Regions from separate parts of the Homo sapiens genome. Here region 2 is linked to region 1. The links come from fine-mapping of genetic effects on gene expression. A gene starts in region 1. The other region holds a variant in brackets. All regions are shown on one strand. Distances are between the middles of the regions.

Region 1 (12,545 bases):
CCGCCTTGGCCTCCCAAAGTGCTGGGATTACAGGTATGAGTCACAGCGCCCGGCGAAGACATGGAAATTCTTAGAACCACTCTGGTCACTTACTCAGTTACATTGGGGAGAACATAAAGATCAGTTATTACTAATTATTCAAATGATCGTAAATGAGTCAGAAAATACTCACATGGGATCACATACTCATGTCCCTTAAGCACATGTCACTCCATAGATAGATCTGCGTTTGCTGCGCATAACCACCACCCATACTGAAAGTTCTGTTGGATCCTAATCTCCGCATTTCTGCTGTCATGGTCCCTGTGCCGACGTCTCTCTGTGTGTGTGTGTCTGTGTGTGCATGTGCACACTCCTATCCTGTGTGTGTCTGCATCTGTATAGCTGTGTAGATTTAATTGCAGAGAAAGTACAGGTCATGGCTGGCTGCGGTGGCTCACGCCTGTAATCCTAGTACTTTGGGAGGCCAAGGCGGGTGGATCACGAGGTCAGAAGATCGAGACCATCCTGGCTAACACAGTGAAACCCCGTCTCTACTAAAAATACAAAAAATAATTAGCCAGGCGTGGTGGCATGTGCCTGTGGTTCCAGCTACTCGGGAGGCTGAGGCAGGAGAATGGCGTGAACCTGGGAGGCGGAGCTTGCAGTGAGCCGAGATCGCGCCACTGCACTCCAGCCTGGGTGACAGAGTGAGATTCCATCTCAAAAAAAAAAAAAAAAAAAAAAAAAAAATACAGGTCACATGTCACATGGCCTGCAGGCCAAGGTGCCATGAAGCCCTGGGCATTTTGATATTAAATTTCCTACAACAGGGGCATCTGAGGTCAGAACAAAAGTAACTTGGCTCCAAGACAAGCGCATTAGGTACTAATGCTGAGCTTTTTTTGATTAAAGTAGTTGACTCAACAGGATAATTGATTACAATCTGAGACTTTATTATCTGATACCCCAAATCCCCCACATAAAAGGGGAGAAAAATGCTGAGCGCTATAAGCTGTCAAGGTGAGAGTCTCCTTGGCTAGACTGTCCTGGACAGCATGGCCTCCAGTGTCCCTCCTGTGGGTAATGAGGGACAGAACTATCTGCCCCCAGACAGCCCGCATGCACCACAACTTTTTTACACCCTTCTGGACACCCACTACTTTAAGAGCCAGAGGTCTAGGGTGAGGGCACCTTACACTGACCAAAATGGCAGTAAATACCCCCATGGAGTCTTCACCTACTTTCTCTCGAATGCCTGGATCTCCAGCCTAGACCAAAGGCATCATGTTCCTCTCCTTAATATATATAATATATACAATAGAAAAAATATATAATAACATTATATAAATATATAACATATTATATGTAAATATATATTATATAATATATAATAACATATAAATATATAATAGAAAAATAGAAAAAAATTACCATAATATATGACTCTTTCTCAAAGTAGTTTAAACATATCACCAAAACGGACTGGAAGAAAAGAATGGTAAGGAAAGGCTGCACATAGCTGGGTCAACCATTTCGTAAGGTGATAATGGAGAATGAACTTTTGGGAAGTTACACAGGTTGCACTGATGGGGAGAAAGAAGAAGATGATACTGAGTCATGCACAGCAGCAGGGCCTCGGCCAGAACGACACCCTGAATCTAAGGTGATGGGGGTGTGTGTTGTGAGTCAGGCTGGGGGCGTCATGACATCATCACAGAAATAGACCTAAAAAGTCCATTCAATCCAACCCCATTCATTTCAATTCACTGCGTACTCACAGGACACAGGCAGCCTCCTGCCAGTTCTCATGTGCCTGCAGGAGGGTTAGAGAAGGCCTTCCTTCCTCTGAACAGCAGCCCTGGATCTTGTGCAGAGACTGGCAAGCAGGGCACAGGCTGATTTCAACCCAGTTTCTGCCCTCGGCTGGGACCCCTCGTGCAGGAAACAGTGGCCTTGCTTGGACACTTTCTTCGTTTTTGAGACAGGCTCTTGCTCTGTCACCTAGACTGGAGGGCAGTAGCATGATCACAGCTCACCGCAGCCTTGAACTCCGGGGCTCAGTTGATCCTCCCACTTCAGCTTCCTGAATAGCTGGGATCACAGGTGTGCGCTACCACACCTGGTTAATTTTTAAATTTTTTGTAGAGATGGGGTCTCACTATCTCAAATGGGGTCTCAAATGCCTGGACTCAAGCGATCCTTTTGCCTCGGCCTCCCAAAATCCTGGGATTACAGGCCGGAGCCAACACTTTCTCTGTGTCGGCACTACTGAGAATACAGATAGTACAGTGACCAGCTAGGATGGACAGCAGCCTAGAGAGGAAGCCAGGCATTAAAGAGGCCTCAGTGTGATGAGTGGTACCAGAGGGGAAGTACAGGATGCTATGGGAGTGCAAACGATGGGATTTCACTTAGTCTAAGGGTCAAAAGACAAGACCATTGAAACACCGGCAAACTAGTTAGACAAGTCAAAGCTTAAGATGTGGAGTTCCTCCACACAATCCCAGCCACTGTGGCTGTCCCCAGAGAGACAAGCCGGCATGGTCAAGGTGACCTTACTGTCCCATCCAAGCTTGACTCTTTACCAGCCTTGAGGTCTCACATATAAAGGCTTCCACCAAGGCCTGCAGCATCAGTTTGCTTCTTGTTGAACCAAGAAATAGATGCCTAGATCTCATATTTCCAAGTCAAGAGGCAGGTCTCTCATAAGCACAAGGATCACAAGATGGGTAGATACATGGCTCAGTCACCTGGCCAGAGGGGCCCCCAAGGCTTCTGGATGAGTGCCATCTGATGCATCTGGCCTGCTGTAGGCTCTAAAGCTCGGGCCCACTCTTGCAAGGTGCATGGTGCGCTCATGCTAGCCAGATGGAAGCACCGCAGTACAAACTCCTCCCCCAGCTTTAGGGGCATGGCTCGGGACATTTGGCCACTTGCAGAGTTTACTCACCTGCCTCTGTTCCTCCACAGCTCCGGCTCCTGTATGAATGCAATCCCGTGGCCTACATCATTGAGCAGGCAGGAGGCTTGGCGACCACGGGGACCCAGCCTGTACTGGACGTGAAGCCCGAGGCAATTCACCAGCGAGTCCCCCTCATTCTGGGGTCACCAGAGGATGTGCAGGAATATCTCACCTGTGTGCAGAAAAATCAGGCAGGCAGCTAGCGAGTTTGACCCCACATGCCCTCTTCTGTTTGTCTTGCACCTTGTCTAAGGACCCTAAATGAACGATAAACAGAGATGGTAGCTATGAGTATACAAAAGGTAAATCCACTTAATCACATACAGAAGAGCAACAACAAACTGCTTACGACAGGTTTGGAAGCCACAGGCGATTCTATGGTCAATGTGAAGGACTAGAAATAAAAACCCACATGTGGAAAGTGCGACTTTGGCTTGTCTTCTGTCAGAAACAGTGGCAAATATGGTTATAATTCCGTCTGTCAACCCACATAATTGGCGGCTGCATGCTTGTGGGCAAAGAGTACATAGATTAGTTAAGAATTTGTCAGCTGGGTGCGGTGGCTCATGCCTGTAATCCCAGCACTTTGGGAGGCCGAGGCCAGCGGATCACGGGGTCAGGAGATCGAGACCATCCTGGCTAACACGGTGAAACCCCATCTCTACTAAAAATACAAAAATTAGCCGGGCGTGGTGGCGGGCGCCTGTAGTCCCAGCTACTCGGGAGGCTGAGGCAGGAGAATGGCGTGAACCCGGGAGGCAGAGCTTGCAGTGAGCCGAGATCGCGCCATTGCACTCCAGCTTGGGTGACAGAGTGAGATTCCATCTAAAAAAATAAAAAATAAAAATTGTCTTGATTGGCTTGAAATTTGAACCTAGTGTCTTATCCTGTAGTGATTACCTCCCTCAAACACATGTAAATTTCCAACTTAATATCTTAGAAGAGTATTTGTGTCTTATTTTGGATAAACTTGAGTTAGAAATCTCATGGCAATTAAATTCTGAAATTTCTGATTGAGCCTATCTTAAGAGTCTATAATTTGGATGACCAATCACAGTTTGAATGGAAAATGGGGTCACTTATTGTTAAAGCCAGAAACAGAGTCAATATTTAGAAATTAACTACTTTTCTAAACCTCTTAACCTTGCATTTTCAGTTTTTGGGGAAATGTTTTAATCTATTCTAGGGACTAACTGGTGTACACTGGTTAAATGACTCGTCACTTGTCCAAATTATGTTAAGACTGGGGAGGGGTTGGCTTATGCATCTGAAATCTCATCTTGTTTTAGGAAGAATTGCTCTGAATATCTATGGACCTGGAGGCTAAGAAAGACATTCATGAAAGATTGACAAATCAAATCAAATCCAGAAGTATTTAAAGCAAAGGTGCATCAGGAGAAAGTCAGGCTTAACCTAGAAATTCAAGAATGATTCAACACGGAAAAATCTATTACAGTAATTCATTAGGTTAGGGGAAGGCAGTGTCGGGTGGGACCAGGCAAGGCCCTGGAGGAAGCAAGGCTCTCCTTTCCCACTTTAGCTTGGGCAGGGTGGGGCATACAGCCCACAGACACATTTCAACTTGAGTGTCATTCTGTACGCAACATCGTTCCTCAGTCTAGCATGGCTTGGCAACTTTAGCAGACACAGCAAAATCTTATTACACAACCAAAAAATTTTCACCTTCTCAAAAAGGAACAAAGATTTTCTTCTTTTCCCAAAATGAAAACTTCATAAAACATAGATGAAAGATATTAAAGCAGACACAAGTAAATGGAAAGATATCCCATGTCCATGCACTAGAAGAATGTTAAAATATCTATATCACCCAATGCGATCTACAGAATCAATGCAATCTGTGTTCAACTACAAGACATTCTTCATTTAAATAGAAAAAGAATCTTAAAATTAACATGGAAGTTCAAAATACCTCAGATAGACAAAAGAATCTGGAATAAAAAGAAAAGCTGGAGGCATCACACTACCTGATTTCAAAATATACTACAAATCTATGGTAAGCATGGTACTATCAAAACAGTATGGTACTATCAATAAAAGGGGCAGGGGAGAGACAGAGAGATGAACGAATGAGACAGACAGACATAGACAAGTGAAACAGAATAGAGAAATCAGAAATAAATTCACGCGTTTACGGTCAACTCATTTTTAACAAAGGCCCCAAGAACACACATTCGGGAAGGACAATCTCTTCAATAAACTGTACCAGGAAAACCCAACACCCACATGTACAAGAATACATCTAGGCCATTACCTTACCATATACAAAAATCTACTCAAAATAAAGATTTAAATGCAGGACCTGAAACTATGAAACTACCAGAGAAGAAAACATAGGATAAAATGCTTCATGAAATTGGTTAGGACAAGGAATTTTCAAATAGACATCAACAGCACAAGCAACAAAAGCAAAGATGTAATTACGTTAAACTTAAAGCCTTTTCCAAAGCAGAGGAAGCAATCAGTATAATGAAGACAGAACCCAGAGAATGGAAGAAAGTATTTGCAAACTATGCATCAGGCAAGAGGTTAATACACAAAACATCTAAAGAATTCAAACTACTCAAAAGTGAAAATACAAATAATCTTATTTTTAAAAATCTACCCAAAACCTTTGTCCCCCACCATTTCCCCACCTTCTTTTCCTGACCGCATTTGGCCCTCTCCCTCTCACCACCCTTTCTCTTCCTCCATCTACCCCAAACTTTTTCACCGTTTTCTCCCTACCGTCATTTCGCAAAGCCTTCTCTACTCTCCCGCTCACCACGCTTTTCCCCATCCATCTACCCAAACACTTTCTCCCACCGTATTTTTTTTCCCACCGTATTTTCCCCCTTCTCCCTGGCCACCCTCTTTTTCCCCCTCCCGCTGTCATCACGCCCTTTTGCTCCTTCATATAAGCAAAAACATTTTCCCCCGTCTTTTCCCAAAGCCTTTTCCCTACTGCTGCTCACCACCCTCTTTTCCCCCTTTATCTACCCAAAAACTGTTTTCCTCATCGTCTTTCCCCCGGCTCCTCCTTGCCACTCTCCTTCCCTTCTCCATCTACCCAAAAACATTTCCCCACCATCTTTTCTCAAAGCCTTTTCCCCACTCCTGCTCACCTCCCTCTTTTCCCCATCTACCCCCCAAAATTTCCCCATCTTTTCACAAAGTCTGCCCCTGCTTCCCACTCGTTCTCTTCTCTCCCCTATACTGCTTGCCACCCTCCTTTTTGCCTTCCATCTACCCCAAACTATTTTCCCGTCTTTTCCCCAAACTTCTTTCCCTGCTCCCTCTCGCCACCCTCTTTTCTCCTCCTCCTTGTCACCCTCTTTCCCTCCTCCATCTACCCAAACACTTTTTACCTACCATCTTTTCTCCACCATCTTTCTTTTCTGCCACTGTTTTTTCGCAAAACCTTGTCTTCCTCCCGCTGGTTACCCTCTTTTTCCTTCTCCCACTTGCTATCTTCTTTTGCTCCTCTACCCAAAAACTTCTCTCCCCACCATCTTTTCACAAAACCTTCTCTCCCTACTGCTCGCCCATTTTCCCCCCCTCACCACTCTTTCCTCTTCCCAATTGCCACCTTCTTTTCCCCCTTCATCCACCCATAAACTTTCTACCCACCGTCTTTCTGCAAAACCTTCCTTCCCTCCCTCTCTGCACCCTGTTTTTCCACCTCCATCTACCCAAAAACTTTTTTCCCCACCATCTTTTCCCCATCGTCTTTTTGCAACGCCTTCTCCTCCTCGCTATCCTTTTTTCCCTTTGGCACTAACCACACTCTTTACCCACCTCTATCTATCCCAAAACTATCTTCTTCTTCCTACCCCTCCAGCCGCGCTGCAATGTCCACCGCCACCACCAACCGCAGCGAGGCGAGCCGCGCCACGGTGCCGCGGCTCAAGCCTCCAGCATACGACCTGTGACTCCTTTTCCTGGTCTTCTAAGCCGGGCACTGAGCAGCTCAATAGAAACACACGGAAACCTAAAAAAACAAAAACAAAAAAAACAACAACAAAAAAAACGTAACTCTGCTTCAGCATTATTTATATCCTGAGGTTATGCGCATGCCGGTTCCTAGACTGCATGTTCTGATTGGATGAGAGCAAGTCTTAAGACAACCAATCACAGCATGAAAATAAAGTCCAATCAGAGTAGGCCTAGAGGTTTTTCTCTCATCCAATCAGAACATGTAGTCCAGGGTCTCCTAACCTCAGTATATAAAGCATGCTGAGGCAGCGGCGCGTCATTTCTGGCACTTATGTGTGGGTGTGGGGAGCTACTACGTACCCGGCTTAAAGAACTGGAAGGCTCCGTCACTTTTCGCCCCCTGGAGCCTGGAGCTTGGAGCCTGGAGCCTGGGGCACTCCCTCCCTGTTGGTGGTGGTGGTGACGGAGCGGTAGGAGGGAGGCTAGCAGCGAGAGCTTCTCCTGCCGGGCTGGAAGACAGAAAGAAGAGGCACCGCCGCGTGCTGGAGGCTGGAGCCGGAGCTTGCGCCTCCGCGGCTCGCCTCGCTGCGGTTGGTGGTGAAATCAGAGACCGCAGCTCGGCCACAGTGGTAGAAATGTGGTAGGGTAGGTGAGTTATCCAGGGCTGCACTGCCCTCTTCTGGGGGTAAGGGTTGGGTGTACTATAGGGGCTCACTGCCAAAGGCTACACTGCCTGTGGCATTGGACTGTTTGGGGGCACTCTCTGGGGTTGCATTGCTGGTGGTGGAATGGGGGGCTACACTGCCCGAGGTGGCAGGGGTGGTCGGGAGAGGCAGGTTGTGTACACTAACGTGTACTGCCAGTGGCGGTGGATGGCTTAGGGGCGTTGTCTTCTGCTGCACTGTCCGTGGCAGGGGCGGGTTGGGTGGAGTTATCTGGGGCTACAATGCTGGCAGTGGGGGGTGGTTTAAGGGCGTGGTCCGGTGCTGCACTGCCTGTGACTGGGGGTGCGCTATCAGGAGCTGCACTGCCCATGGCGGGGTGAGGGTGGGGCGGGTTTGGGGCGCTGTCTAGTGCAGCAATACCCGTGGCTGCGTCAGGTGGGCACTATCGGGTGCTAACACTGCCTGCGGCCGAGGAGTTGGGATGGTTTGGGGGGGTATTGGTTACATTGCCTGCAGCTGTTGGGTGTGCTATCCCAGGGTTACAGGGGGCAGGTTAGGGGTGCTATCGGGGGCTATACTGCCAGTGGGGTTGGTGGGCTGCAGAGGCAGCAGCGGCAGCGACAGCTGTGGCCTCCTTCCTCTTTCTGGTGGCCTCCATGGAAGGATGGAGTTCTTCTCTTCCCGGACTCCAGACTCTAGAGGGTGATCTCTTCGTGCTCATGCAATCTTGAGCACCGCAGGGCTCTCACACCCACTGTGGTTCCCTGGCCCGCGCCCTCACGCACGCTCTGTGTTGTGGAGACCATCTGGGACTACCGGGCAGGGAATAGAGGGCACCACGGGGGAGGGAGGGGGACAGGGCACTGTGGGTGGAGGCGTGAGGAATGGGAACCAGCACTTGGGTGGAGAGGGCTGGCTGGGTCTGAGTTTCTCCTACGCGGGCTCCCCGAAGAGCGCAGTGCCGATGGGCCCAGCAATTCCTGGCCAGCTGGACTTGGCCAGGAGCCGGTTTCAGTGAAGGCACTCACACCCAGCCCAGGCCCCAGTTCCTGGCCAGCTTTTGCCAGAAAGAGAGGCTGGACTTTGGAAGGTGGGTGTGAGTGCCTTTAATGAAATGGTCCCTGCCGCCCAGTGGCCAGCGTGACAAGGTGAAGCTCTAACACTTCCACTCCCTGCATCCTGTTCTAGGTTTCTCTGGCTTTGCCTGCGCAACTGCTCCCAGCCAGGCTGGAGGAGGAGGAGGAGTCACCTGTGGTATGCTGGAGCCTGTAGATGGCGTGGCTCTGCAGCTTGCCTCATGAGGTTGGTGGCAGCAACAGAGACTGCAGCTTGACCAGAGTGGTAGGAGGGCACCCGTGGGGGCCAAGTGATAGGAGCCTTGTAGGGTGGGCTGGTGCATTGAGGGCAACAGCGGTTGTACTGGCATCGGCGCTAGCGTTGGTAGCAGCGGCAAGTCTGGGGGCTGGGAAGGGGAGTAGGAGCGCTCACTTGCCCATCCTGTCCTGGGGTGGGGACGAACCTTAAGGTGCTATAATGCGGGCCTCAGTGGCAGTGGTGGAGGTGCATGTAGGGTAAGGAGGAGTCTTCCTCCTTGTCCTGCAATCTCTGGAGGGTGCCCTCCTCCTGCTGGCGCCTGAGCCAGGCATGAGTGGCAGCATTGTCTAATTCTTAACAAAATTCAGGGGGTGACTTTTTGTGTATCTTTTCGCTTGTTTTTTGTTGTGATACTCTTGGACTTAACTCAAATTTCATGAATCGAGGAAAGGATAAAAGGTATAATAGGCCTTCTAATTCACGCACCTGTTCTTTTTCCTTTCTTCCAGTCTGTATTTTCTTCTTCTTGTTCCTCTTCATTTTCTTTTGCTGCTGCTGCTTCTATTTGATGTTTCTATTCTTGTTTCTCCTCTTTTTGTTTTCTTTATGCCAAGCAATGACCTTAAACAACAAGCCCAAACTGAGTGAAAAATAAACTTGTCACTGTGATGTATTTTTAAAATAACTGGTCCCTTACTATGTTTTAGAGATGAGGAAACAAATAAGTCGTATAATTAGTTGAATAGCTATGATTTCATTATTGTGTTAACCCACTTAGGCCTAGTGTTCCATTATTGGAACGCTAAGCATGTGGGAGTTACTTATACTGCTCAAGGTCATTGACAAGGTCTGATTTTTCACTCATGCAAAAATTCAAAAAATTGCAACCTCTGGCATAAATGGGCTAATGAGTTGTAAGTAGTTATCCAAGGAACCAAAAAGTGAAGCATCACATAAGATATTGGTAGCAAAAGGCCATTTCATCTCTCTCAAATATTTGTCTGGAGCTATGTAAGAGTCACTGGGGTAATAAGTTCTAATTTATGAGATTATTAAGTGAACCATATTCCCTTCATTTTATTTCTCTGCAACCATTTTGAAGAGTATCATCATCTGCATGAGCAAACCTGGTTCATCACCACATTTTTGCAAGAGGCAAATGAAGGGGGGAGAATCATGTGTATAATTTTGCAAGGCAGAGATTCACTACCAAAAACAAGGCTTTATTAACTTTTGCCTTTAAGAACCTGCAGTGTTGAGCTCTCTTTTAATCGTAGTATTACTACCTTTGGTATGAACTCTTTTTTTTTTTAAACTGATTACTCTAGAAGTTTATGCATTTTCTTAGCTGCCTTAAAGACAATCTATATTGTATCATTTTTCAAGCCCACAGAAATGTGTAAGGCCTATAATTCTGACACTTTCAGTTATTTTTAAGGTTATGAGCATGTGAAATACTGTTGATATATGGAAGAATGTGTGTAAATACCACTAGATAGCTTATTTTGAAGAGATAGTATCTAAATTTTTGTCCAGAGTAGATTGGTTGCAGTTTCTTAAGTTTGTTTGTCAATACATTTCCTCAATGTTTTAAACCATATAGAAATTTGAATACGTTTAACCTCATATAGCCCTTTATTTATAGGTTTAATATTTCTAAAGACTAAGGACATCACAGCCTCCTTTAAGATTCAGTAATAATAAAATTTGAGATATGTAGGATTAGAATCCAACAAATTCAGAGGAAAATTGTTAAATTATATAGCTGTAGAGCAGGAATGAAACCCAGATTCTAAGCTCTAAGGGGGCCATGAGCTACCATACAGGTGCATCCGTGACTGGGCATAGAGTCGGCAAAATTACAGGATGGTTAAGAGAGTGAGCTGTGGAGCCTGACTCTATGTGAACATGAATTTTTAAACCGCATGGTGCCTCAGTTTATCCACCTTTACAGTAGGGACAGTAGTAAGTTCTTTTTTTGCTCAGTTGTCTGGATTATTTCCCTAATCTTTCTTGTTGCCACTCTTGATGCCCACATGAGAGAATCTAAGGTAATTTCTGATAGCCTGAGACTGCTGAAGGAAAAACAGAAGGTGCCACAAACCCATTTTAGGAGAAACCTCTGTTTTCCTCATGGAACCCCAAGAACTTTAAGCAGACAGGTCCCTCTCAAAATCTAAGGCTCTCCTGTTTTGCCTTGCATTATCTGACCTTTTTGGTTTGAGTGGGCATCAGAAATTAGTAGAGGGAAGAGATCTAAAGAAAGTTGTGGATATGAAGATGTATTTATGGTAAGAAATATTATGAAGGAAAGAAATGTTATGTGAGAGAGGATCTTGTATGGCAAATTCTTGTCCTAAAGTAGAATGACTAATCACAACAGAGGGAAATACAGGACAAGTCACAAAGTTAAATCATGTCCTAGATGGTCTGTGGAAGTTGTGTTAGGGTTCATAAAATGTGAAAGAAAAACTTACAACTGCTAGATCGTGTCCTGTCCAGAAGTGTTGTGTATGTGATGTATATATAAAGGAGCTCTAAGTACTCGACTTAACAGAAAATGAAAGCTCTTAAATATTTTGTCAGAAAAACAGAGGCTCTAATGCCTTTTATTTCACATGACTTCACTAATCTTTGGAAAATAAAGACGGTGTTAAAATCATTGGTAGAATAAAAATATCTTCAAAATCTATCCATTTTGTCTAATTTAAGTCAGAGGTTAAATTTTAGAAGTGCTTTAATGTCATAAATTGATTCTTTGACTTTGGAAAATTGTTGTGTTTACCTGGCTTGGAGCCGTGAAATTTCTAGGTAAGGCCTGGGAACAGGTGGAGTTAGCCATGTCTCCTAGATATGCTGAAAAGATTCAGACTTATCTACAGTTCTGTCTTGTATCCTAGACTCTGCACCTGTTGGTCATTAAAACGTCCTGCTGCTGCTAATCCCTGGACTCCATTTAAAACCCTTCCATCACATGAATACTATCCCCTGTACTACATTTTTCCACAATTAAATACTTAGAATCATTTTTGCCCACTTGAACCAACCATTAGTGATATATTTAAAAAATAATGTGTCTCAATATATTTAGCAAATGTAGGGAATGACATTTTTACTGTTGTCTTTTACATAGCATTTATGTAGCAATGCTATCAAGTATTTTTAGTCATTTAAATGTTATATAAGAGATGCTTTTGATTCCTTTGTTTCTATGTAAATAAATATAATTATGAGATATTCAATAAATAGTATCGATTACATGTTTAATTTATAGAATATATTTATAAAATTAGGATTATTTTTAAACAGTATATCATACTTGTTGGCTTTATGATAACTTAGAAGTAATATTCTGGATTAACTGTGACTCATGAGAGAGGGAGTTTGTGCAACTATAATCTTTACAAATTTTTTCTAGATTTTCAAGACTTACACTAGAACTGTGAGAACAAGGTAATAAATAAGCATATCTAATAATAGCATCTTTGGTCAACTCTTGGCTAGACCCAGTGATAGTGTAGGGATTAGCGTAATTTCTGCCACTAAAGTTAATGGATTTGTTTTGCGAGACCACAGTTTAAACATTGACATACAAAGTTTAAAAGTGTTAGATTAAAAATTTTTTAATGCCTTTGAAATTGTTTTATAGAAAAATAATGATCTGTCCTGGTTTACATTGATAGGTTTTT
Region 2 (12,545 bases), 47 kb before region 1:
AATTGGGAGGAGGGGGCCCGCCTTGCCAAGGCTTCTATTAATGGTTCAAGAAACACTGGATTGTAAAAAACATAATGTTTCTGCATGTGTGCAACACTATGTTGGCCAACTAAAATGCATTTATGGACCTGATGGGGCTGTAGATATTCTGTTTGCCATAAACTGTATCCATCCATTTCTAGCTTTTCTACTTTAGTCACCAAAAGGCTGTTTTCCTGAGACGAATGGGTGTGCCAACTGAAGCAGTGGACGACATTGCTTCTTCAAAAATAGCTCCCACATTTATTCGTGTACATTTACACAAACCTTCAGTTAACTGGTGCAGTCTTTCTTTCTTTTTTTTTTTTTTTTCTGAGATGTAGTCTTGCCCTGTCTCCCAGGCTGGAGTGCAGTGGCGTGATCTCGGCTCACTGCAAGTTCTGCCTCCTGGGTTCGAGCGATTCTCCTGCCTCAGCTCCTGAGTAGCTGGGACTACAGGCGCCTGCCACCACACTTGTATTTTTAGTAGAGACGGGGTTTCGCCATGTTGGTCAGGCTGGTCGCGAACTCCTAACCTCAGGTGATCTGCCCGCCTCAGCCTCCCAAAGTGCTGGGATTACAGGCATGAGCCACCATGCCTGGCCAACTTTTTTAACTTTTAGAGATGTCCTCCTATGACATTAGTGAACTATGTGTAAAGTGCTTTTTGCTGGCAAACTGAACCCCAGGAACAGACAAGGAACAGGAACCTTCTGTGCGAGATAGGCTGCTGGAGGTGAGGCCGGGTCTGTGTGTGGCAGGAAGGCTAACTCAACACAGGCTGCCTTTGTCCCAGGCTGTCAGGGAAGTGGACTTTCACCTCCTTGGAAGCATGGGCACTTAACAAATAAACAAGGGTAGGGTAATAGCACTAGTTAAAGTCGCCAAATGTGGTGACCTGGGTAGGGGTGGGGTGGGGGAGTTAGTGGCAGAACCAGAGCAAAGTTCCACCTGAGCCCAGGATGGAATTTCGGGCACCACTGATGTTTGCTGACTGTGATTTGCCGGGCCCTGACTGCTTCCCATTCTTCTGGTGCCTTCTCTTGTTACCTTTGAGTTGGTGGAAGCAGAGAAAACATTCAATCCCTTCTTGTTTCCAGATTGCAGGGGAGCATCCCTGTAGGGAAGCTTCTGTGTGTTTGATAGTCTTTTGCCCTCCTCAGTCCTGAATGTTTGGAAGCGCAATGCAGGGCTGCTGGGATTTGATTCCAGCCCTTCTGTCTGCGGTGCCTGACGGGGCTGAGCCTCCCGCCAGGGAGGTGCTAAGTGCTTCCTCTTTGTTTGCGCTTGCTGCAAAGCCAGGCTGACGGTTTCTGCTGAAAACACTGCTACAGCTGTACTCGGGTTTCCAGCGGCTTCAACTTTCTGGGAGCTTTTATGTTTTGTCTCTGTACACAGACTTTCCTCCTTTGCACCATGGACAGTCTGGCTGGGCCCTGCGCTCTGCACCCAGCAACTGTTGTGAGATGGCTTTCTTTTCTATATAGTTTTTTGAAAGACATTTATTTATTTATTTTTCTACCAACGATAAAAGAATATTCCGGTATACTTGTGGTCAAAAATTTTGAAAATATTAAAAAAGGCATAAAAGTAAGAAAGAAGAATCACTTCCAGTGACACCTTTCAATGGCCACTGTGAATTCTCCCCTCCCTTTCTCCCTGTCTGTCTGGTTTCAACGTATTCCATATGGGTAGGAACCAATTTCTGCTGTGGAATAAATGGCTAGGTAGAGAGGTGTCGGTGGGCCTTTTTTCTTTTCAACTCTTGTGTCAACGTCAAGCCCCTCCTAAATGGGCAGAGCCTCGATCACCCTCTTGCCAAAAACACACAGGAACCCATAACAATCCTCAATCCGGAGCAATAGGACTTCTGCAACACTTTTCCCCCAAATTCAAATCTCCTTTGAAGAGCCTAAAGCTTAAAGGCATAAGCTTAACCCTGGGCTATGTGGGAAGAGGCAGTCTGAGAAAAACTTCACACGCCAGCGAGCAAAGGCCATCGGAAGTTACGTACGCCAGACTCAAAACTCAGGGTTCTACTTTGTTCTATAAGAACGCCCAGAAAGGAGAACTCCCATCAAGGTAGAAATGTAAAGCCGAGAACAGCGCTGAGCACTTGGGTGTAACTCAGGGACTGATCCTGCGGTGGCCCGTCTCTCCTGAGAGCCCACCTCCCGCCTGAACCAACCCTTTTTTCTGTTTGGTAAAGGCATACACATCTTATATTGCTTTGGACACACGGTTCTTACTCTCTTGCAGGCTTAGCAGTTGTTTCACAAGTCTGCTCTCCCTATTTTTGTGTGGTTTCTTTCTTGTTTGACTGAAATCATATGCAAACAAAGTCGAAAGTGTCTGTTATCACCCTGATGGCTTCTGCAGCATTGTCTTGCTTCCCCTCACCCCATTCACAGTTCCCAGAGAGCCTGGCAGGTGTCTCGGGGCCCCAAGATGAGTGGTGCCCGTGCGCCGCGACCCCAGCCCAGCGTAGCCCAGCCCATCGCTCGCCTCATCCAGGCCTGGGGGACCCAGTGCGCTCGTCATCTCTCCACCTTTCCTTCCTTGTCTAAAAAGGCCATCGGGGAGTTCATTTTGGTGGACAAGGATGTGAAGATAAAAAAGAAAGGTAAAATCTACAGCCTTAACGAGGGCTACGCCAGGGACTTTGACCCTGCCGTCACTGAGTACATCCAGAGGAAGAAGTTCCCCCCAGTAAGTGAGGGCCCGGGGAGGGTGGTGCAGGTTCTGGGCATCTGGCACCAGAGGCCGTTCTGGAGGCAGGGGCATCCCCCGGAGATGAAAGGGATCCTTGGGATCGAGGGCCTTGGGCCTCATGTGGGGCTCCTGAGCAGTGTGGAAATCTATTGGTTGATGACTTACCCTAAAGGTGAAAGGAAGCAGGGATGGAGTGGATTGGGCTTCCGTCTACACTGAGCCCACGATGAAGTTCTCACCTCAGTACTGGAGACTGGAATTCTCACCCTGAGACATCAAAAATCAGTCTCCATGTCAGCCTTTGCTACTTTCTCTTGGCAGAAGAAAATTAGGATAATAAAGTTAAACAAATGAATGAATTCATGGCAGTAAAACATCTTCCCTTCTGGGGTCCATGGTCCCAGATGGGATGAAATGTGGTTCCCCCACTCAAATGCCCGTCAAGTGGTGTCTGCCCCTTGCTAGGCCTGCCTGAGGTGCATCTATCAGTTATCTCGAGACCGAGAGTGCCCATCGTGACATCTCCCTAAAGAGGTTACAAGCTAGTGAATATGAAGAGAAGAAATGGCTGTGTGGAGCTTGCTCTATATGGAATATCTGATTTTGTCCTTTCTTTGTTTAAAAGCCATCGATGGCTGCTGTTTGCTAGAGATGAAGCTCAAATGTTTGCAGGACGTTCAAGGAGGCCTCAGATCTGCCCCAGGCTTTCTCTCCAGCTTACTCATCTCTCCTTTCACCTTATCCTGGATTCCCCTCCTGCCCCCAAGCTCCGCACACGCACACCCGAGTCCCACAGGCTCCTCCTCCAGGACCATATCCCTCTCCACATTGCTAAGCAGACACTTGTGCAGTTTCCTCTCCTGTAAATTACACACTGCCTCCCACCCCTGCCCGGTTCCTTAGCTTGGTAACAAACTTTCTCAGCCTTTAAGGTGTTACTAAATGGTACAGTTTCTGTAATGCCTGCCTCAGCCCCATAACCAGAATCAACCATACCCTCGTTGGGGCTTCTGTGGGCAATCTGACCTATTGTGAGATGATGAGAGGCTGTCTCCATTTTTCCATTTTCTATTTATTGGGAACAGGATTCTCATCACATTTTTTAGCACAGCCCCAAATACATACCTTGTAGGTGCTCGGTGAATGGATGTGGAATCAAAGAAACTTAGGAGACACCAAGAAAACTCTCTTTCTTATTTTCTGCAATCCTAATTCTTGCTGGTCTTAACTTGCAGGATAATTCAGCTCCTTATGGGGCCCGGTATGTGGGCTCCATGGTGGCTGATGTTCATCGCACTCTGGTCTACGGAGGGATATTTCTGTACCCCGCTAACAAGAAGAGCCCCAATGGAAAGGTAAGGGTGTCCCCTGGAGAGGGAGTGAGGAGCAGATTTCACTTGCAGCCCACGCGATTTAGTTTAGGAAGAAGAAAGGTTTTGCTAGCTATTACGCTCCATGCTAGGTTGCTACGTGTGTCTGTAGCATATTCTTTTGTGGATTAAAGGTAAAGCCAGACGATATCAACTAAAGATAAAAATAGTCTCTTGAGAGCCCTTCCAGTGCTATGGCAAAAGAGAATGAACGGTCAGGACGAGGACTGAAAGTCCTTAGGGCTTCCAGTGGATACAGGGCTTGGCTGGGGCAAAATGAATTCCATTCATAAAGTGAAATGAAACAACCCAGCCTCACTTCCAAGGCAGCGAATCAAATGTGTATCCTCAGTAGAAGTCTTCTTTGATTGCTTTCAAAAGGTGTAAAACAGAGGTAACTAGTGAGTCAACATCCACTACTTGGAAAACGATACCTTTTAGGGGAGGAAAGAATCTCTGGGGAAACCTAGAGCTTTCAGGTGAGCCGTCACCACCGACTCACTAGTCCAAGCCCATGGTGTTCCCAGCAGGCTGCAGGGTGGCTGTGCTCCCTCACGCTCGCTCAGAGCTGCCCTGCTTTCCTTCTGCCAGGGTGACAGTGTGCTTCCTTCCCAAGTATTGTGTCCTTCTTATGTTTTCCCAGTGGACAGATGGCTTTTTAGGCAGAGTCTTACTCGTCGCCCAGGCTGGAGTGCAGTGGCGCGATCTCAGCTCACTGCAGCCTCTGCCTCCTGGGTTCAAGTGATTCTCCTGCCTCAGCATTCTGAGTAGCTGGGATTACAGGTGCCCGCCACCACGCCCGACTAATTTTTATATTTTTAGTAGAGACGGGGTTTCACCTTGTTGACCAGGCTGGTCCTGAACTTCTGACCTCAAGTGATCCACCCGCCACAGCCTCCCAAAGTGCTGGGATTACAGGCATGAGCCACCACGCGTGGCTGCCTTTTTTTTTTTTAATGCAAGAGGAGAACAGGAACAACAGTTCCCTTAAACACAAAACCTATGTGTTTGGATGTATTTGGGTCTGTTTGCAGCATGTGGCATCCAGAATGAAGGCATTTCTATTTACTGAAACCATCATCCAGCTGTAGCTGCCTCGGGCATATCAACCTGTGTGGTTAGCCTGCTTTCCAGCACTTTTCTCTAAAGTCCCCCGAAATTGTTCCTGAACACAAATATTGAGGCTCCTTCTTTTTTTTTTTGGTTTTTCAAAACTAGCCATGACACCTATGTGGAAATAGACTCAGGAAACACCTGCAGAAAGCTGTCGCTCAGTAGGCAGACTGCATGAAAAGGCATACAATAAAAAAGTTAATATTTAAAGGTGAATGCCAAGACGTATAATACACTGAATTCCAACCCAAAAGCCTTCGGAGAATCGTAAAAGGAATGCACACAGAGTTGCAAACAATATCACACTGTTTGGAGGAGCCGGTCTGCTTTCCAGATGTCTGTAGCCAGACACCACCATGGATTTTTTTTATTGCTTTTAGAATAGGCGAAGCTCCATCCAACACACACAGAATCACTCATTAAGTCCAGTTTCCATGGTATAAAGAGAAGGCAATGATCGCTTCTGCCAAAATGTCATTCTGTCCAGTATGCAGGTGGTCTGTCTCACATTTGCATCAGGTAATCTATTGCTGGCACTGGCTTGATGAATGGTTGAATTTAACCAAATGGTTAACTGTTTTGTCTCAGATGCAACCTGGGGTGGGAGGAAACTTTTACAGCCTCACAGGAAGGAAAAATACAGTATTCGTTCCCTTGGAAACTCCCACCAGCTCTGCATGTTTTGCTGCAGAAAAGTCTCTTTTTTACGCAATACCTTCTGATACAAGGAGGCCGCTACCCGGTCTTGTTTTCCAGCTGAGACTGCTGTACGAATGCAACCCCATGGCCTACGTCATGGAGAAGGCTGGGGGAATGGCCACCACTGGGAAGGAGGCCGTGTTAGACGTCATTCCCACAGACATTCACCAGAGGGCGCCGGTGATCTTGGG[A/G]TCCCCCGACGACGTGCTCGAGTTCCTGAAGGTGTATGAGAAGCACTCTGCCCAGTGAGCACCTGCCCTGCCTGCATCCGGAGAATTGCCTCTACCTGGACCTTTTGTCTCACACAGCAGTACCCTGACCTGCTGTGCACCTTACATTCCTAGAGAGCAGAAATAAAAAGCATGACTATTTCCACCATCAAATGCTGTAGAATGCTTGGCACTCCCTAACCAAATGCTGTCTCCATAATGCCACTGGTGTTAAGATATATTTTGAGTGGATGGAGGAGAAATAAACTTATTCCTCCTTAAAAAAAAGTCTCCCTTGCTTTGTGTCAAATAATAATGATGATGACAATAATAACTGCTGATGCATATAACATTAGATAACTCATTTAATCTTCACAATAACCCAATGAATCAGATACTCTGAATAATCCATTTTATAGATGACAAAATGGACGAGGAGAGGTGAAGTAATTGGCTCAAGGCTTCCAGCCAATGAGTGGCAGAGTGGGGACCTGAATGCAGGCAGCCTGGCCACTGTGAGCCAGCATACGGCTTCTCCTTCATGTCGTCCCGTTCAGGCCTGGCCCATCATTCCCCAGCCTTGTTCAGGATTGCAGCTGAGGAACCATGCAGCCTGAACATGGCGACTCACGCCCTCCTAGAAATGGGGGAGCTAATGGCTTAGTGGTGGTACCTGCATGTGACCCTCTGGCCTCCCAAACATGGATGTAACCATCTGAATCCCAAGTGAAAGTTTACTGTTTACCCAGTGGTGATTTTTCTTTTTCTTTCTTTCTTTCTTTCTTTTTTTTTTTTTTTTTTTTTGACGCGGAGTCTTACTCTGTCTCCCAGGCTGGAGTGCAGTGGCGCAATCTCGGCTCACTGCAACCTCTGCCTCCTGGGTTCAAGCGATTCTCCTGCCTCAGCCTCCCGAGTAGCTGGGATAACAGGCACCCATCACCACACCCAGCTAATTTTTGTATTTTTAGTAGAGACGGGGTTTCACCATATTGGCCAGGCTGGTCTCAAACTCCTGACCTCATGATCTGCCTGCCTCAGCCTCCCAAAGTGCTGGGATTACAGGTGTGAGCCACTGCGCCCAGCCACCCAGTGGTGATTTTTCTATAAAAGCACGGCACTTAACTCACAAAGGCTAATAGTTCCTACAGTCTAGTTACCATAAGAAAAAGGATTCACTACAAGAACAGGGTTTAAGGAAATGCAATTTGTTGCAAGCAAGCAGGCTTCTCACTAAACTCTCTATAGAAACAGTTTCTCCCTCCGCTAACCCTGGTCTTACTGGACCAGAGTCCAAGATCGTGGCAAGCTCTGTCAGGCACTAAGTAACACCTGTGGCCCTCCTTGAGCTCTAGATATAAAATGGATCTATCCATATGATTCCACTTGGGAACTGAAAACATGTGTGTATGTGAATCCTGCTTCTTCCCCTCCAAACACTCCCCATTCATTTCACATTTTCCCAGCAGGAAATTGATCTTGAGCATTGGATCTGCTTCTGCCCACTGACCAGACAGACCCAAAGCCAATATTTCTCCACTCCAGCTGGGGCTGCCCTCTGGGAAAGTCCCCTGACGCACAAAGCACCTCTTGAGTTTTAAACTTCTTGTAACTCAGCTGGCATCTGGTTCTCAAAGCATGAAGGGAGAGAAATATGGTCTGGGAGCCTTTTCCATATATATATCAGGGTGCAGTGGCTCACACCTGTAATCCCAGCACTTTGGGAGGCCAAGGCGGGCGGGCGGATCACAAGGTCAGGAGATCAAGACCATCCTGGCTAACACAGTGAAACCCCGTCTCTACTAAAAATACAAAAAATAGTTGGGCGTGGTGGCGGGCGCCTGTAGTCCCAGCTACTCAGGAGGCTGAGGCAGGAGAATGGCATGAACCCGGGAGGCAGAGCTTGCAGTGAGCCGAGATCACACCACTGCACTGCAGCCTGGGCGACAGAGCGAGACTCGTCTCAAAAAAAAAAAAAAAAAAAGAAAAAAGAATGAGGGTCTTTGCAGATCTAATTAAAGTAAGGATTAAGATGAGATGAGCCTAGATTACCTACATTAGGATGGGTCCTCCTCTGAAGCCATGCATTTTTGTACAGGTTCATGACATGGCAGGAGCCTGGAGGCCTAAGCCACCGCCATGTCGATGTCAGCCTGGGACCAGAAGGAGAGACAAACCTTTGCTGTGCTAAGCCGTGGGGATTTCAGGTTTATTTGTTGCTGCACGATAACATACGCTATCCTGACTAAACTAGACCAAGCTTGGCAATATTTTTAACCTCTCTGAGTCTCCCTTTCTTCATTTGCAAAATGTTAATTGTAATATCTATTGTAGTCAAGGCCATTTTCATCGTAGGTAACAGAAACCCATTTATTCTGCTAAAGCAGAAAGGCAATTTGTTGGAAAGCTTCAGGGGACTCTCATGAAACCTAGCACCCACTGCTTTCCTAACCCCGAGGACACACCCTTAGTCCGTCCTGGCATTGTCAGCCAATCCACTGTGTCTCCATGTCTCACACCAAGTTCCCCGGAGAAAAAAACCTGACGTCTTAGCTTGTGTCCAGTTAGCTGCAGCCATAGACCCGGGTCATATAAGACAAACGTGGCCTTGGGTTTTCTTTTTATGGGCAGGGCACGCCTCTCTCTTAGATGGGGATCGTGGGCTGAGCAGATACCCTAAAGGGTCTGCCGTGCTGGAAGCAGAAATGCTGAGGTTTCATGAAAGAGCGTTTGTTGAGATCACTGGAGACGGGGCATGGAAGGCATTCTAACAGAGTTTTGCTAACAGAGAATATGCTCTCAGCTAGTACTGTAGAGTCACAGTCCAGATCCTAGACTTCAGGTGGGGGCCCCGCCCTATGAACTGCCCTAAGACTGCCTTACTGTTCAGAGACTCTGTTTGTCCTTACTACTTCCGCCCAGGCCTGTGAGGGCCTTTCACCAAGCACAGCAAGCCCATAAATAGCTCTGTGATCACCAATGCATCAGTGGCGCTGAAAAAAGCGTGAGCTGGACGCTGCCCCCCCCTTCCTCTGGGCCTTCCAGATGCCCCGTGTGTCCACGCTGTTGTGTGCCCTGAAAGAACTTTGGCATTTGCTGAAAGGTCACCAGCTGCAATTTCAGATCATGTAGGTAACTCGAACTTCCAACATTTAAATGTAGCTGAAAGGGGCATGACAGCTGCACAGGTGCCAGCCTGGGCTGGAGGGTGGCAGAAATAGCAGGCCCTCCCTTGGATCCCTTTACGGGGGGAGCTGACTTATACATGGCACTGGCCAATCCCCCTCCCTCCTGATCCCCAAATTATCCAGGCTTCTGCTCATCCTTGACACCCACAGTGCCGGACAACCGGCGCCTCTCCAGAGATCTGCTCATAACACTGGCTTGTTTGTTTCACTTCCAATCTGTTGTGAACAGATATGTTAATAAAACATAATAAGCCGAGCGCAGTGGCTCACGCCTATAATCCCAGCACTTTGGGAGGCCAAGACAGGCTTATCACCTGAGGTCAGGAGTTTGAGACCAGCCTGCCCAATATCATGAAACCCCATCTCTACTAAAAATACAAAAGGTAGCCAGGCATGGTGGTGCGTGCCTGTAGTCCCAGCTACTCGTGAGCTGAGATGGGAGAATCACTTGAACCTGGAAGATGGAGGTTGCAGTGAGCCGAGATCGTGCCACGGCACTCCAGTCTGGGCAACACAGCGAGACTCTGTCTCAAAAAACAAAACAAACAAAAAGCATAATAAAAATAATTACAGGAGTGGCTAATAAGCACCTGCTCAACATCACTAATCATTAGGAAGATGCAACTACTCTAAGCCACAGTGAGATACCACCTCACACCCATTGGGATGGTTACTGTAAAAACAAACAAACAGAAAATAACAAGTGCTGGCAATAAGGTGGAGACCCTGGGACTCTTGCTCACTGCTGGGGAGTGTGAAATGGTGCAGCCGCTGTGGAAAATGGTGCAGCAGTTCCTCCAGAAATTAGACAGACAATTACCATATGATCCTGCAGGTCCACCTCTGGGCACATCCCCGAGAGAATCAAAAGCAGGGCCTTGAACAGATGTTTGCACGCTGTGCTCATGGCAGCATTACTCACACTAGCCCAGAGGTGGAGGCAACCCAAGCGGCCATAGAGGATGAATGGGTGAACAGACTGTGGCGTGTCCATACCAGGGAATGCTGTTGAGCCTCAGAGAGGAGGGAACTCTGACCCATGCCACAGCATGCGGGGATGGTGAGGACATTGTGCTGAGTGAAATAAGCCAGTCGCAGCAGGACAGATACTGTATGGTCTATGAGGGACCCAGTGTAGCCAAATTCATAGAGACAGCAGAATGGCGGGTGCCAGGGACTAGGTGTTGGGAGGGGGAATGGGGAGTTCTTGTTTAATGGGTACAGAATTTCAGTTTGCAAAATTTGAAATTGGGATTATGACTATAATTGGGGTCTAGAACTGTTCTATCATGCAAACCCCCATTGCCCTGTCCCCTCCCCACACCCCTACCCCTGGCAGCCATGAGAGTTATCTGTCCCCACAGGTTTGCATTCTGGAGAGTCCCCTACAAATGGAATGAGACTGTAGATACTCGCTGGAGACCACTGCTGTCACTCAGCACAATGCCTCTGAGACTCGCCTAAGTGCCACACGTGACACTAGTGTTTGTGTTGTTAATAGTATTCCATTGTGGCCGGGCGCAGTGGCTCATGCCTTTAATCCCAGCACTTTGGGAGGCCGAGGCGGGCGGATCACGAGGTCAGGAGATTGAGACCATCCTGGCTAATACGGTGAAACCCCGTCTCTACTAAAAATACAAAAACAAAATTAGCCGGGCGTGGTGGCAGGTGCCTGTTGTCCCAGCTACTCAGGAGGCTGAGGCAGGAGAATGGCGTGAACCCGGGAGGCCGAGGTCATGCCACTGCACCCCAGCCTGGGCAACAGAGCGAGACTCCGCCTCAAAAAAAATAGTATTCCGTTGTATGGCTCTCCCAGTGTGTTTACCCATTCACTGTTAAGGAGATTTTGGGTGTTTGCAGTTTCTAGTTTAACTAGAACTGCTATAAACATCTGTGTGTGGGTTTTTGTGTGAATACACATTTTCAGCATTGTTTTGCGCCATCACAGGGGAAACCTTCTTTTTTTTTGTTTTGAGACAGAGTCTTGCTCTGTCGCCCAGGCTGGAGTGCAGTGGCACAATCTCAGCTCACTGCGAGCTCTGCCTCCTGGGTTCACGCCATTCTCCTGCCTCAGCCTCCCGAGTAGCTGGGACTACAGGTGCCCGCCACCATGCCCGGCTAATTTTTTTCTGTGTTTTTAGTAGAGATGCGTGTTAGCCAGGATGGTCTTGATCTCCTGACCTCGTGATCTGCCTGCTTCGGCCTCCCAAAGTGCTGGGATTACAGGTGTGAGCCACCGTGCCCAGCCGGAGACCTTCTTAATCAGATAACATTAGCTTCAAAATGAAACCTGAAAACTAATCAACCAGGCCTCCGTCTTCACCCTGCAGTCATTTACTGGACCAGAACTTGGAAGATCCAGCCACTCTATTTCTGTAGTGATGTCAAAGGAATCATCATTGGTTTCCCCATGTGAAAGGCAAAGCTTATTTGTTAATGGCAACATGACGTGTTAGGATCAAGGAAAGGTCCATTCCGCAGTTTTCACAATTCCCAGAGCTCTTGGGAAAGGAAGAGTTTTCCAAGTTTGATCCTCATGATATCAAAATTAAAATGTTCTTACCCAAAAAATGATAACTCCTGTTATTAGCTTATTATTATTATTAAACTGATACTGAGTGTCAGATGGGGTGAACAGATTAATACAAAGTGGCATCTCTATTTAGATGAGTCTTTCATTAAACAGGAACACACAGAGTAAAACACACTGGAATGGCCCTTTCTCCAGCTTCCAATAGGGAAGTTGGATTGATTATTATGTTGGCAGTGGAGCACCTTCCAGAAGAAACATGAGCTAGAAATGATACCCAAGTCTTTACCTTACCCTTAGCAACTGACAGAAGTGAAGCCATTGCAGAAGGCTCTCTTGCTAATAACTTTTTTTCCCCAGCATATTTCTCAATGTGACAGTATTGTTCTGAATGATGAAGGCAACCACTTTTCATTTGGATTCAGAAACACTTGGAAGCAGTGATAATATGTCTTTTCTTTTCTTCTTCTTCTTTTTTTTTTTTTTGAGATGGAGTCTCACTCTGTTGTCCAGGCTGGAGTGCAATGGTGCGATCTCGGCTCGCTGCAACCTTCGCCTCCCAGGTTCAAGCAATTCTCCTGCCTCAGCCTCCTAAGGAGCTAGGACTACAGGTGCACACCACCATGCCCAGCTAGTTTTTTGTATTTTTAGTAGAGATGGAGTTTCTCCACGTTAGCCAGTATGGTCTCGATCTCCTGACCTCGTGATC

Evidence for each region. PIP is the estimated chance that this variant, and not a neighbour inherited with it, causes the effect.
Region 2: its variant is fine-mapped to the expression of PCAT7 in pancreas (GTEx, PIP 0.93).

Annotation. Positions count from the first base shown.
Region 1 is chr9:94,549,540-94,562,084 of GRCh38, reverse strand. It overlaps PCAT7 (prostate cancer associated transcript 7), which reads right to left and starts at 7,002. Exons shown (of 3, transcript NR_121567.3): 1 at 6,740-7,002; 2 at 2,933-3,116. It overlaps FBP2 (fructose-bisphosphatase 2), which reads left to right. Exons shown (of 7, transcript NM_003837.4): 7 at 2,953-3,365. The coding sequence ends at 3,147. LOC124902218 (a long non-coding RNA gene) reads left to right here and starts at 7,196. Exons shown (of 2, transcript XR_007061674.1): 1 at 7,196-7,526; 2 at 8,731-11,548. RefSeq lists enhancers at 2,975-3,475, 6,801-7,463, 8,128-8,790.
Region 2 is chr9:94,596,997-94,609,541 of GRCh38, reverse strand. FBP1 (fructose-bisphosphatase 1) reads left to right here. Exons shown (of 7, transcript NM_000507.4): 5 at 2,590-2,727; 6 at 3,966-4,085; 7 at 5,970-6,409. The coding sequence ends at 6,161. Among named protein-coding and RNA genes, the nearest start is that of FBP2, 9.4 kb to the right of the region's middle. RefSeq lists an enhancer at 996-1,497. The variant A/G (reference allele first, on the strand shown) is at 6,104.